2 separate regions of the Homo sapiens genome follow, and region 2 is linked to region 1. Evidence: fine-mapped expression QTL. A gene starts in region 1. The other region holds a variant in brackets. All regions are shown on one strand. Distances are between the middles of the regions. Region 1 holds the start of SIRPG (signal regulatory protein gamma). Region 2 holds the start of SIRPG-AS1 (SIRPG antisense RNA 1).

The links. PIP is the estimated chance that this variant, and not a neighbour inherited with it, causes the effect.
Region 2: its variant is fine-mapped to the expression of SIRPG in whole blood (TOPMed, PIP above 0.99).

What each region holds. Positions count from the first base shown.
Region 1 is chr20:1,654,577-1,659,962 of GRCh38, forward strand. SIRPG (signal regulatory protein gamma) reads right to left here and starts at 3,203. Exons shown (of 6, transcript NM_018556.4): 1 at 3,066-3,203. The coding sequence starts at 3,138.
Region 2 is chr20:1,632,847-1,638,232 of GRCh38, forward strand. SIRPG (signal regulatory protein gamma) reads right to left here. Exons shown (of 6, transcript NM_018556.4): 3 at 3,342-3,659; 4 at 2,421-2,753. It overlaps SIRPG-AS1 (SIRPG antisense RNA 1), which reads left to right and starts at 662. Exons shown (of 3, transcript NR_110090.1): 1 at 662-874; 2 at 4,360-4,504. RefSeq lists an enhancer at 2,244-3,069. The variant G/A (reference allele first, on the strand shown) is at 3,038.

The DNA.
Region 1 (5,386 bases):
AAACTGTACAAGAACTAGAAGAAAAGTTTCATGACATTGGTCTTGGCAATACATTTTTGGATTTGAGCCCCAAAGCACAGGCAACAAAAGCAAAAATAGACAAAAGGCATTAACAACAAACTAAAAAAGCTTCTACCCAGCCAAGGAAACAATCAACAGAGTGAAGAGACAACCTATAGAATGGAAGAAAACATTTGCAAACCATACATCTGATAAGGAGTCAGTATACAAAATATATAAGGAAGTCAAACAACTCAACCATAAGAAAACAACCCTATTAAAATATGGGCCAAAGATCCGAATAGACATTTCTCAGAAGAAGACATTAAGATGGCAAGTCAGCGTATAAAAAAAAATCCAACCTTACTATTCATGAGATAAATGCAAATTAAAACCGCAGTGGGCTATCATCTCACACCTTTAAGAATGGCTATTATCAAAAAGAGGAAATTTAGTATTGGAGAAGATGTGGAGAAAAGGGAACCCTTGCAGACAGTTGGTGGGAATATAAATTAGTAGAGCCATTAGTGAAAACAGTATGCAGGTTCCTCAAGAAATTAAAAATATAACTCTTATCTGATCTGGTAATCTCACTACTGGCATATATCCAAAGGAAATGACATCAGCATGTCACACATATATCTGCACTCCCATGTCCATTGCAGCATTATTTACAAAAGCCAAGATATGGAATCAACCTAGGTGTCTATCAGCAGATAAATGGAGAAAGAAAATGTAGCATATATGCACAATGAAATTCTAATCAGCCTTACAAAAAGGGAAACCCTGTCATTTGCAACAACATGGATGAACCTGGAGGACATTCTGCTAAGTGAAATAAGCCAGGCACGGAAAGACAAACACTGTATGATTTCACGTATGAAGAATCTAAAAAGTTGAGCTCATAGAAGTAGAAAGTAGAATGGTGTTTATCGGGGGCTAGAGAGGGGGTGTAGTTGGGGAGATATTAGTCAAAGGATACAAAATTTCAATTTAAATAAGAGAAATAAGTTCAAGATATCTATTGTACAATGTGGTGTTTATACTTAATAATATGAATTGTATTCTTGAAAACTGCTGAGAGAGCAGAGTTTACGAGTTCTCACAATAAAAAATGATAAATATGTAAGGTAATGCATATGTTTATTAGTTCAAATTAGTCATTCCACAATGTATGCATATTTCTTAATATGTTGTACATAAGTATACATACTTTTGTCAAATAAAAATAAAATAAAATATTTATTTTGTTAAAAATTTCACTGAAAATAGAAAGAGAACCAATGATTAAAAATGAAATCTCATCTGTGCATGTACATGTACATGCATAGGCACATGTGCATATATATGTGTATATAATGTGTATATATACACATTCACAAATATATATAAAAGTTTGGCTTATCATGTTAGTATATAAGGTTGTTTTGTGCATTAATTACAATTATGACAAATTTAAAAATCTCAGTAAAATATTTGGCACATAGAAACCATCCAACACATTTTTAACATTTTGGGAAAACATACATACACTAGTGTTTTACCTCTGATTGTTTCTGACTGGTGTGATGGGTGATTATTAATCTAATGTTTGCTTGCCTGCATTTTCTAATATTTCTACACATAGCATAACATGGTTAAAAGGGTGATAAACTCTGGAACTGGTCAACCTGGACTTGATCCCAACTGCTCCATGGACTGAAGTAGGGGACAATGAACAGGTTCCTGCCTCTGCCTCACTCCCCATTTGCAAATAGAGCACAAGAGTTATAGCTTCCACACAGGGATGCTGTGAGGATTAGTTGACTTAATACACACAAAATGCTAAGAAGTGCATCTGCCTTACAGGAAGAGAGCAATTGCTGAACTATTACTGCTGTCATTTGGGTACAGTGTATGTGTAAAAAAAATAATTTGAAAAGTGAGACCTTGCCCTCTAAGACCTGTGAGATGACATCACAGCAGGGCCCAGTGGGCAACTGAGAGGCTATTGTGCCCAGCCCTGTGACCGGGGGTCAGCTGCATGGTCTGAAAAAGGGGTGAAGACAGGCAGCCTGTCTGGGAGCTGTGAACAGGGCTCTCTCAGGTGGCACCAGGAAAGACCTCCCAATCCTGTCTGCCTGGGGGAAGGGAAAATAAATTCTCCAGAGGAAAGTCAAGATGACCAAGGGAGATGGTGGTGCCTGTTATGGGCTGAATGTGCCCCCAAAACGAATGGGTTGAAGCCCCAATCCCCAGCGCCTTAGAATTTGACCATATTTGGAGACAAGGTCTTTAACCCATTTATGCCCGAGGTTGCAATTTTTTTTTAATTTGAAAAATCAGACCTTGGCGATGCCCTTGAGCAGTAGGATATAAATAACTCCCGCAAGCTTAGTGATCCAATAACGGAGCACTAGGCATAAATGGGTGAAGCAATTTAGTTAAATGAGGTCACTGGCGGGGAGCCTTAATCCAATATGGCTGATGTTCTCATAAGAGAAAATGAGAATACAGACACACACAGAGGAAGACCATGTGTCAAGACACATGGAGGAGATGGCCTTCTACAAGCCAAGGAGAAAGACCTCAGTAGAAACTAACCCTGCTGGCATCTTGATTTTGCAATTCAGCCTCCAGAACTGAAAGAAAGAAAGTAAATGTCTATTGTTTTAGTTACTGAGTCTGTGGTGCTTTGTTGTGGAAGCCCTAAGAAAGGAATATAGGACGCTGTAAGCATGAAATGTGGAACTTCTTAAAGAGGAGGAGGGCACACAAAAATGGGTAGGAGGACTCAAGACAGGTAAGGATTTAATAATGATTCTTCTGTGTTTGTCAAATAAAATATTATAAAAATGTAACTAATTGTGATGGTGGCAGAAGCCTCACAAGGTTTGATGCCTCTGGTAGCCAGCTGCAGATCCACAGAGAAAGTGCTCAGCTCCCTGATCTTCTGCTCTTGGACAATGTCCAGTCCTTGACCTTCCTTGGCAGTGCTTGTGCTTATCTGAAATTGCTGCAAGTCCAGGGGCAAGGCTAGGTCCAGGAAGCAGGGAGAAAGGGTTCTAGCCCAATGCAATGCTCACCTGTAAGTCCCAGCAGTAGAGTCAGAAGCAGGAAAGGACCAGGAGGATGGGGCCAGGAGGCTGGGACAGGCATTTTGGAGACCTCAGAAGCCTGCTCTGTTCAAACGTCTGTTCTGGGGAGATGTCAGGCCCTGCTCTGAAGACAGAAGACAAGCCCTGCCTCCCTCAATTCAAGAGGAAGTGGCTATGATGGAATGCAACAGTAACCTGCTTCTAGATTGTGACTTACAAATCAGGCACAGTAGGCAGCTACAAAGCAAGGAGTTAATCGTGCTCCATTTTCAGGATAATCAGACAGGGTTAGCAGAAATAATGCTTCCTGCCTGCCTGGGACCTGTGCTCCCTCCTCGTGTCCCCAAACCCATTTTCAGGTCTTCTTGGTGATTTGCCATTTGAGGCTTTTAAGTCAAGAAAGATCTGTTGTTAGGTATTGTTTTCTAAAGTCTTTATTTCAAGACCCTAGGATGTGGTTGGCTTGTGGTCTTGTTCTGCACCAGCCTCAACCAAATGCCACTCCGCTGGACGTAGGAGAAGAGTTCACAGGACCTGCTCAACACTGGAGAGGAACCAGATCTTCTCCTGAAATGATTTTCTATTCCAAATTGCTATAATTGGCAACACTTAGCCCAAATTCAGTCTCTTGTGGACCTTAGCACTTTCATGTGCCTGCACCCAGCAGAAGGAATTATTTCTTGACTCCTTCCAGGAGAGAAACTGGGTTTGAGGTAATAAGCAACTGCTTTGTGGAGTGAGGTGGGGATTGTGGGTTATGGAAAGGGGATAGGGTTATCATGAGGGAAGATTATGGTGGGCAGGTTCCTGGGGCCGTCGCATCAATTTCAATACCCTTTCTTCTACACACAGAGCACCTATTTCATTCATCACTGAGTTCGGATGGGAAATGAGGAAAGAGGAAAAATCCATGCTCCTGCCAAGAGTGTGTGCCAAGGAGTTGGGGAAGTCGCTGGGCCCTCCTATGCTCAGTTTCAATCTCCTAAACTGGGAATAGTAAGTCTTTTTGTGCAGTGTTTTAGTGACGATTAAAGAGGTAATGAGCATATCATGCCTGAAACCCAGTAGGTCATTATTGATACTCACGGTGCCAGGTGAAGTGCGGGAACTCAAATGTTGCTTTTGAATGGATCCCTCCTGCATGCTGAGTTGCCCACCAGTGGCTTTCTCCCAGCAACCCAGGCCTCCTGAGACCCAGCTTATATAGTGTATTTGGACTCTCGCTGCCACCCTGAAATCAGTTTCTCCCTCTGGATTCTCTAAATCCCGCTCCTTGTTCAACCATAGATTAATTCCTCCTCTTACAATTTCCAGCTGTGTGATTTTCAAAAAGACACTACTTCTCTGAGCCTTGGTTTGATTGTATGTAAATAAATGTTAGAATATGCACCTTGTAGAGCTATGGTAGGAATAATATAAGCCATACTGAATGCTTGACTCATAATTAATTATAAGCAAAAAAACATGGCTATAATTATTTTCTGTGTACAGGAAGAGTCCACTGGTTCTCTGCCACCGTTGTGCCTTAGAAAAGCCACCTTGTTAAAAGAAATGATTTCTCTTCCAGCATCTATGACTAAGAAAGACCTGTCCAGAATCCTTCATCTCACATGTGGGTTTTAGGTTCTTAATCTGTCATGAATAATTGTCAAATCAAATTGTAAATGTTATCATGTTTTAATTGAAAGTCCTGTTTTAATGTGGCAGATGTACACAGGGTGAAATCTTCCCCTCCTTCTCCACACCCACAGTAGTGAAAACACAAAATGAAAAGAATATATGAATCAATGTCTAATTACACTTGAATACAAGCAATTGGCTTCTATATGACATGAAGGAATTATAACAGCTATCATTTATTGAGAGTTTCCTGTGCTCCAGATATGGTGCCAAGCATTTTTCTATTGGTAATGTCATTAAATCATTGCTCTGACCCCATGAGGTAAGCTCAACCATTAACCTCCTTTCACAGGTGAGAAAACCCGAGGCACATGGAGAGTAATGAATTTGCTCAAGATCACCCGGCTTTTAGAACTGGAACATAGGCTGCCACACTCCACAGCCTTCACTTTTAATGGTTGTACTATGATACCTCTTGCAGGAAGGGAGAGACATCCCTCAGGAAGAAAGCAGAGAAGAAGCTATAGCCTCAATTAGGAGCAGCCCTCATAGTGAGGCTGGGGCAGGTGCCATGCTCCACGAGGCCCTGACAACCCATGATCACATGGGGAATTATTCCTGGGAAGACGGAAGTGCAAGCAAGAATCACCAAAGATTTGAGGAACAGCACTGCAGCTAACAAATTCAAG
Region 2 (5,386 bases), 22 kb before region 1:
AGTAGAGCAAAATAAACTCAAAGCAAGCAGGAGACAGGAATTAATAAAAAGAAGAGTGCAAAAAATGAATAAACTGGAAACACAAAAACAATTTAAAAACTCACGGAAACAAAGTGGTCCTTTGAAAAGACCAATAAAATGGAAAAAAACTATAGCAAGGCTGATGAAGAAGAAAACAGAAATGGCATATTTTAGATATGAGGTTGAAACAGGGGATATCGCCATAACCCTTCAGACACCAAAAAGATAATAAGGAGATATTATGAACAACTCTACACACAAAAATATGACAACTTAGATAAAATGGACACAAAATTCTTCAAAAGGCACGAGTTACCGGAACTCACCCAATATGAAATGAATAATATGAGTAACCCTAAACTACTGAGGAAATTGAATTTATACTTTTAAAACACCCCCAAAAATTCTTGAGGCCCAAGTGTTTCAAAGAAAAATACTGCAAAGCATTTAAATATGAATTAAAACCAAATTTAGTGCACAGAAAGATAGTCATAAAAGAAATTTGAGGAAAATTTGAATGTATACTCCATTTTAGATGATATAAGGGAATTGTTTTAATAATTTTATGAAATTTAGTGATTAAAAATTTGAAATTGTATTAACTGTAATAATGATACTGGTTTTGTTATGCTGTCTTTAGTCATAAGATCACCCAACTATGGATTCCATTTGGAACTGCGTGTACATGCATGACTGAGTTAGCTGTGGACATGATCACACGCCTTCCATACATCTCTGATTATAGAAGATATTTTTTGCCCTCCATTTCCTATATTTACTCTTCCAGCAGACAGGGACATGGAAAAATCCGTGACCTAGCACTGACCCAGCAGATAAGACTAACCACCATAAGGTATGTGGGAGGAACCTGGGCCTTTGAAAAGTCTCCTGGAGTTGAGACTCCTCCTGGTATTACACAAGAGGGAAGTAAGACATATTTTGGTCATACGGAGTGGAACACAGGCCAACTTCAGGTCCATGGGACAATGCCCAGCAGAAGAGGACTGTTTCTCTAACTAGCACAAATTTGCATTTTAGGCTGATACTGACCTTGTCCTCAGGGACCCAGATTTACTTTAATTAGTTTGAACCAATAACCCGATCTAAAGGCAAGAGGTCTTCAACAACATCCCCCATGACTTCCCAAGTCCTAGTTTCCCCTTCTTTAAAACTCCAGACTTACTGGGTGGTTGAAGCAAAAACAGAGATCATGGATGAATGGAAATTTGCACTTAGTAAATTTGCAGAGGGGTTTGTGATTATTGTTGCTCAAATATCACAATCAGGACACAGAAGAGGTCCGTTCTGTGACCATTCATGGTCACCTGCAGGCCTGGTACAGTTTTTTTTTTTTTTTTTGACAGAGTCTCGCTCTGTCGCCCAGGCTGGAGTGCAGTGGCATGATCTCGGCTCACTGCAAGCTCCGCCTCCTGGGTTCACACCATTCTCCTGCCTCAGCCTCCCGAGTAGCTGGGACTACAGGCGCCCGCCACCACGCCCGGCTCATTTTTTTGTATTTTTAGTAGAGATGGGGTTTCACCGTGTTAACCAGGATGGTCTCGATCTCCTGACCTCGTGATCCGCCCGCCTCGGCCTCCCAAAGTGCTGGGATTACAGGCGTGAGCCGCCAGGCCTGGTACAGTTTTAAACTACATTTGTCTTTCTGAAACATACACAGCAGATGTCAGGGTGTACTGGGATGAGGTCATAAATGAGGATGGAAAAGTTTGGATGAAACAGAAACAAAGCAGAGGTTAGAAAAAGTAGGGAGCACAAGGGTGGGCTGATGAGAAACGGGCACAACAACTCTCAAGGAATAAGGGAAGGCAAAGGACTCTATGAGAAGATGGTTCCCCCTGCCTGCCTCTTTGCTCCTTAAATATATATTTATGTACGCCAGGCGCGGTGGCTCACGCCTGTAATCCCAGCACTTTGGGAGGCTGAGGCGGGCGGATCACGAGGTCAGGAGATCGAGACCATCCTGGCTAACACGGTGAAACCCCATCTCTACTAAAAATACAAAAAATTAGTCGGGCGTGGTGGCGGGCGCCTGTAGTCCCAGCTACTCGGGAGGCTGAGACAGGAGAATGGCGTGAACCCGGGAGGCGGAGCTTGCGGTGAGCAGAGATCGCGCCACTGCACTCCAGTCTGGGCGACAGAGCCAGACTCCGTCTCAAAAAAAAAAAAAATTAAACATATATTTATGTCAAAAGTTCTATTAACTTGTGCATCAAATTCTTACTAGTCATGACTCTTCGCATGTGGGATTTGGGGGGATGGAGCTGACATTAAAATTTTACTTTGTATTTATAGACTTCTAGCTTATTTTACAGCAAGTGTGGATATTACTTTTAAAATGAGAGAAAAAGACAAAATTTAAAAATTTTGAGTAACCTCACCAGGGGTAGCATCTGAGCTCTGGTCCTTCTGGTGGACTGTGACCTCTAGGGCAAGGCGTTTGCTGACCGCCAGCTGCCCATCATGCTTCACCTGGCAGGTGAGGACCACATCATCCCTTTGGTCAGATATGTTCACCAGGAACCAGCTTGTCCAGTTGTAGGTACCATCCTTGTTCTCTGTAAGGGTCGAGGCTGTTTCTCTCTGGCACACGTTTCCATTCTCCGACCAGGTCAGCTGTAGGCTCTGGGGGTAGAACTTCCTCACCTGGCAGGTGACGTTTACCTGGTTCCCCACCCTCATGGGCTGTTGAGTAACCTCCAAGGTGGGTGGAACTGAAACAGCACAGGGTAGAAGCTCTGATCTTCTGGCACAGACAGATCACAGGGAGGGCTCCATAACTTAACTCCCACTACCACGGTGAGGGCATCACCAGGACAGTGCTAGGCAGGCAGCAGATGCTAAGACATTGAGGGCGCTCTTTGCATATGAATGAAATTACCAAGCACAGTGCCTGGTGCACAGTAGGTGCTCAAGGACTGGTAGCTCCTACTAGGCTAAGAATGAGTGAAATCTACAAGCACAACCCCTGGCATGCAGTTGGAATGTAAGAACTGTA[G/A]CAAAATCAGTGAAATCGCCGAGCACATAGGGACTTGGCTCATAGTAGGTACTCACTAATAGTAGTTGTTCTTGGTGAGATAAATGAAACTCTCTAGCGCAGAGCTTGGCACGTGATTGCTGGTCCCCTGACCGCTGCCAATAAAATGATAGTAAGTGACCAGCACACCTAGGTGCATGGCGGGCGGGCAGTATAGTCAGGGATTAGATTACAGGCCATTCAACCTCTGGAGCAACAGCCTGGGGAGAGGGGAGTGGGCTTGACAGCCAGGTGTGGGCTTGGGCTGGGTGTGAGGGTCCTCTACCTCGGATGGCCTCAGACAAGTTGGCAGTCCCACGAAGAGGGTCCCCCTGCAAGGTGACATGGGCCACCTCGCAGATGACCTGAGAGCGAACGTCCCAGGGGTCCAGTACCACCCTGGCTGTGCTGCGGATGCTGTAGGCCACACTCTGTCCTGTGGGGTCCACGTTGGTCTGGAAGTCTGAGAGCTCATTCCCATTTTTGAACCATTTCAGGGTGATGTCTCTGGGAGAGAAGCCATGGGACTCACAGGTGAAACTCACTGTATGCTCAGGTGTGGTCCTCGCCGCAGGGCCCAATACCACGGGGGCAGAGGGTTTGGCTACAAAAGGGGCATCGATAAACAGGAGACATGACTGAGATGACAATCACTAACGATGAGTGTGTGACACTGTTAAGAACCTTCAGATACATTAATTTTAATCCTTCTAATAATGTGGAGAGGATGGTGTTCTTATTCTCATTTTACAGAGCAGGATGCAAAGGTTGGAAGAGGTGACGACCAGCCCCAGGTCAGACAGTGTAGGGAAAGGTCCCAGAGGGAAGTCCAGGTCTGAGTTCAAAGTCCTCCTCTCCACATAGGGTGACTTCCACCAATCTGGGCACAGGAACAAAGTTACTGATTGTTCTCCCTCTGTGTATTAACTGGTGCTAGCCTGTTTCCCCAGGAGAGCTCACCAACCTCAGAGAGGGTGTTTACAGAAGCCAAAGTAGGGAACAATGGCAAAGTGGCGCCACCATGAGACCTGCAACCAGGCTGCTCAGCCCATGAGAGGGGTGGCCTGGAACATGCAGCCCCTCATCTGCAAAGTGGGACAGCAGCATTTTCCCTTCCCAGGGGTGCAACAAGGATTAAATGGGGCCATGGAAGAAGTTTTGCTTTGGATCAAAGTCAGAAGATGCTTCATAAAAATAAACACAGATCTGTCTTTAATCCAGACTTGACATATACCTAGAGCTCTCTCTCTTTGTGTATTTATGAATTTATTCCATATTTTTCATTCTTTTCACAAATATTCCAGTACAGTTTTTGAAAGAAAATGAAGTAGTTAAGGCTAAAGCTTTAACATGGAGTCAAGCGTTTGTAAGAGCATTGCACTCACACCTGCTAAAGGTCAAGCCACAGGATGTTGCTGTAGACCTGGATAACAATGGACTGAAGTCAAGGTACATGGGATTTTGATTTCTCTCATCCTGGAGTGTCCTAATTAAGTAACCAATTCATACGAGTTTGCAGTTTAGCATTTCTGCCAGGCAATGAACTGTTTTCAAAAACAACATTTTGTGAAAGTCCCCAGTACAAAACTTTTCCTGCATTGCCCTATGGGACACTGTTCAGGACTACCATGACTCAGGGTTCCCAAATTGCAACTCTTTATTTCCCAGATAAATGCTATTTCCTTTGGCCTTCCTATCAATCATTATTTTTTTTAGTTAGCAGGTCTAATCTGTGCCAAGTCCCAAATTTGAAAAGAGGGAAGGTTTCTTGGAATCTAGGTCTTCAGTTGGGCCAGGTTGGGTCCAAAAACAATGATCACTGAGTACTAAGAAAGCCAAAGGTGGGTGATTTCTTCATCGTTAATTCATTACAAGAGACAAAGATCTAGGCCACCCCAACAGGCAGAAATCTATCCTGGGTCCTGAAAGCACACAAACTGGAGAATCAGAAAAATGAGGGTAGTTTCTCCCTGTAGATGAGTCCTAAACGTGTCTCCAAATTGCTAATTATTACCCTGCACCTCCTATAGCAGTCATCAGGAAACACATATTAGGCATACTTGCATTTGTAAATATTAACTTGCTCCCTACCACATGCAAACATTTTATGGGCACAGTAAGAAGGGTGTCACTTGAAGAAGTCAAGTCATCAAGACACCAGCAGCATTGGGCATCCCTAGAGGGCTGAGAGGCTGTAACCAGTTGCCATTTATTGAGGGCTTCTTGGGAGCCTGATGCTGGCTGCTCCCTCTGTACCTCTCAGCTCTTTAATCCTCCCTTTATTGCCTTGAGGGGGTCCTCGTGTGAGTCCCTTATAGGACCAGGGTCTGA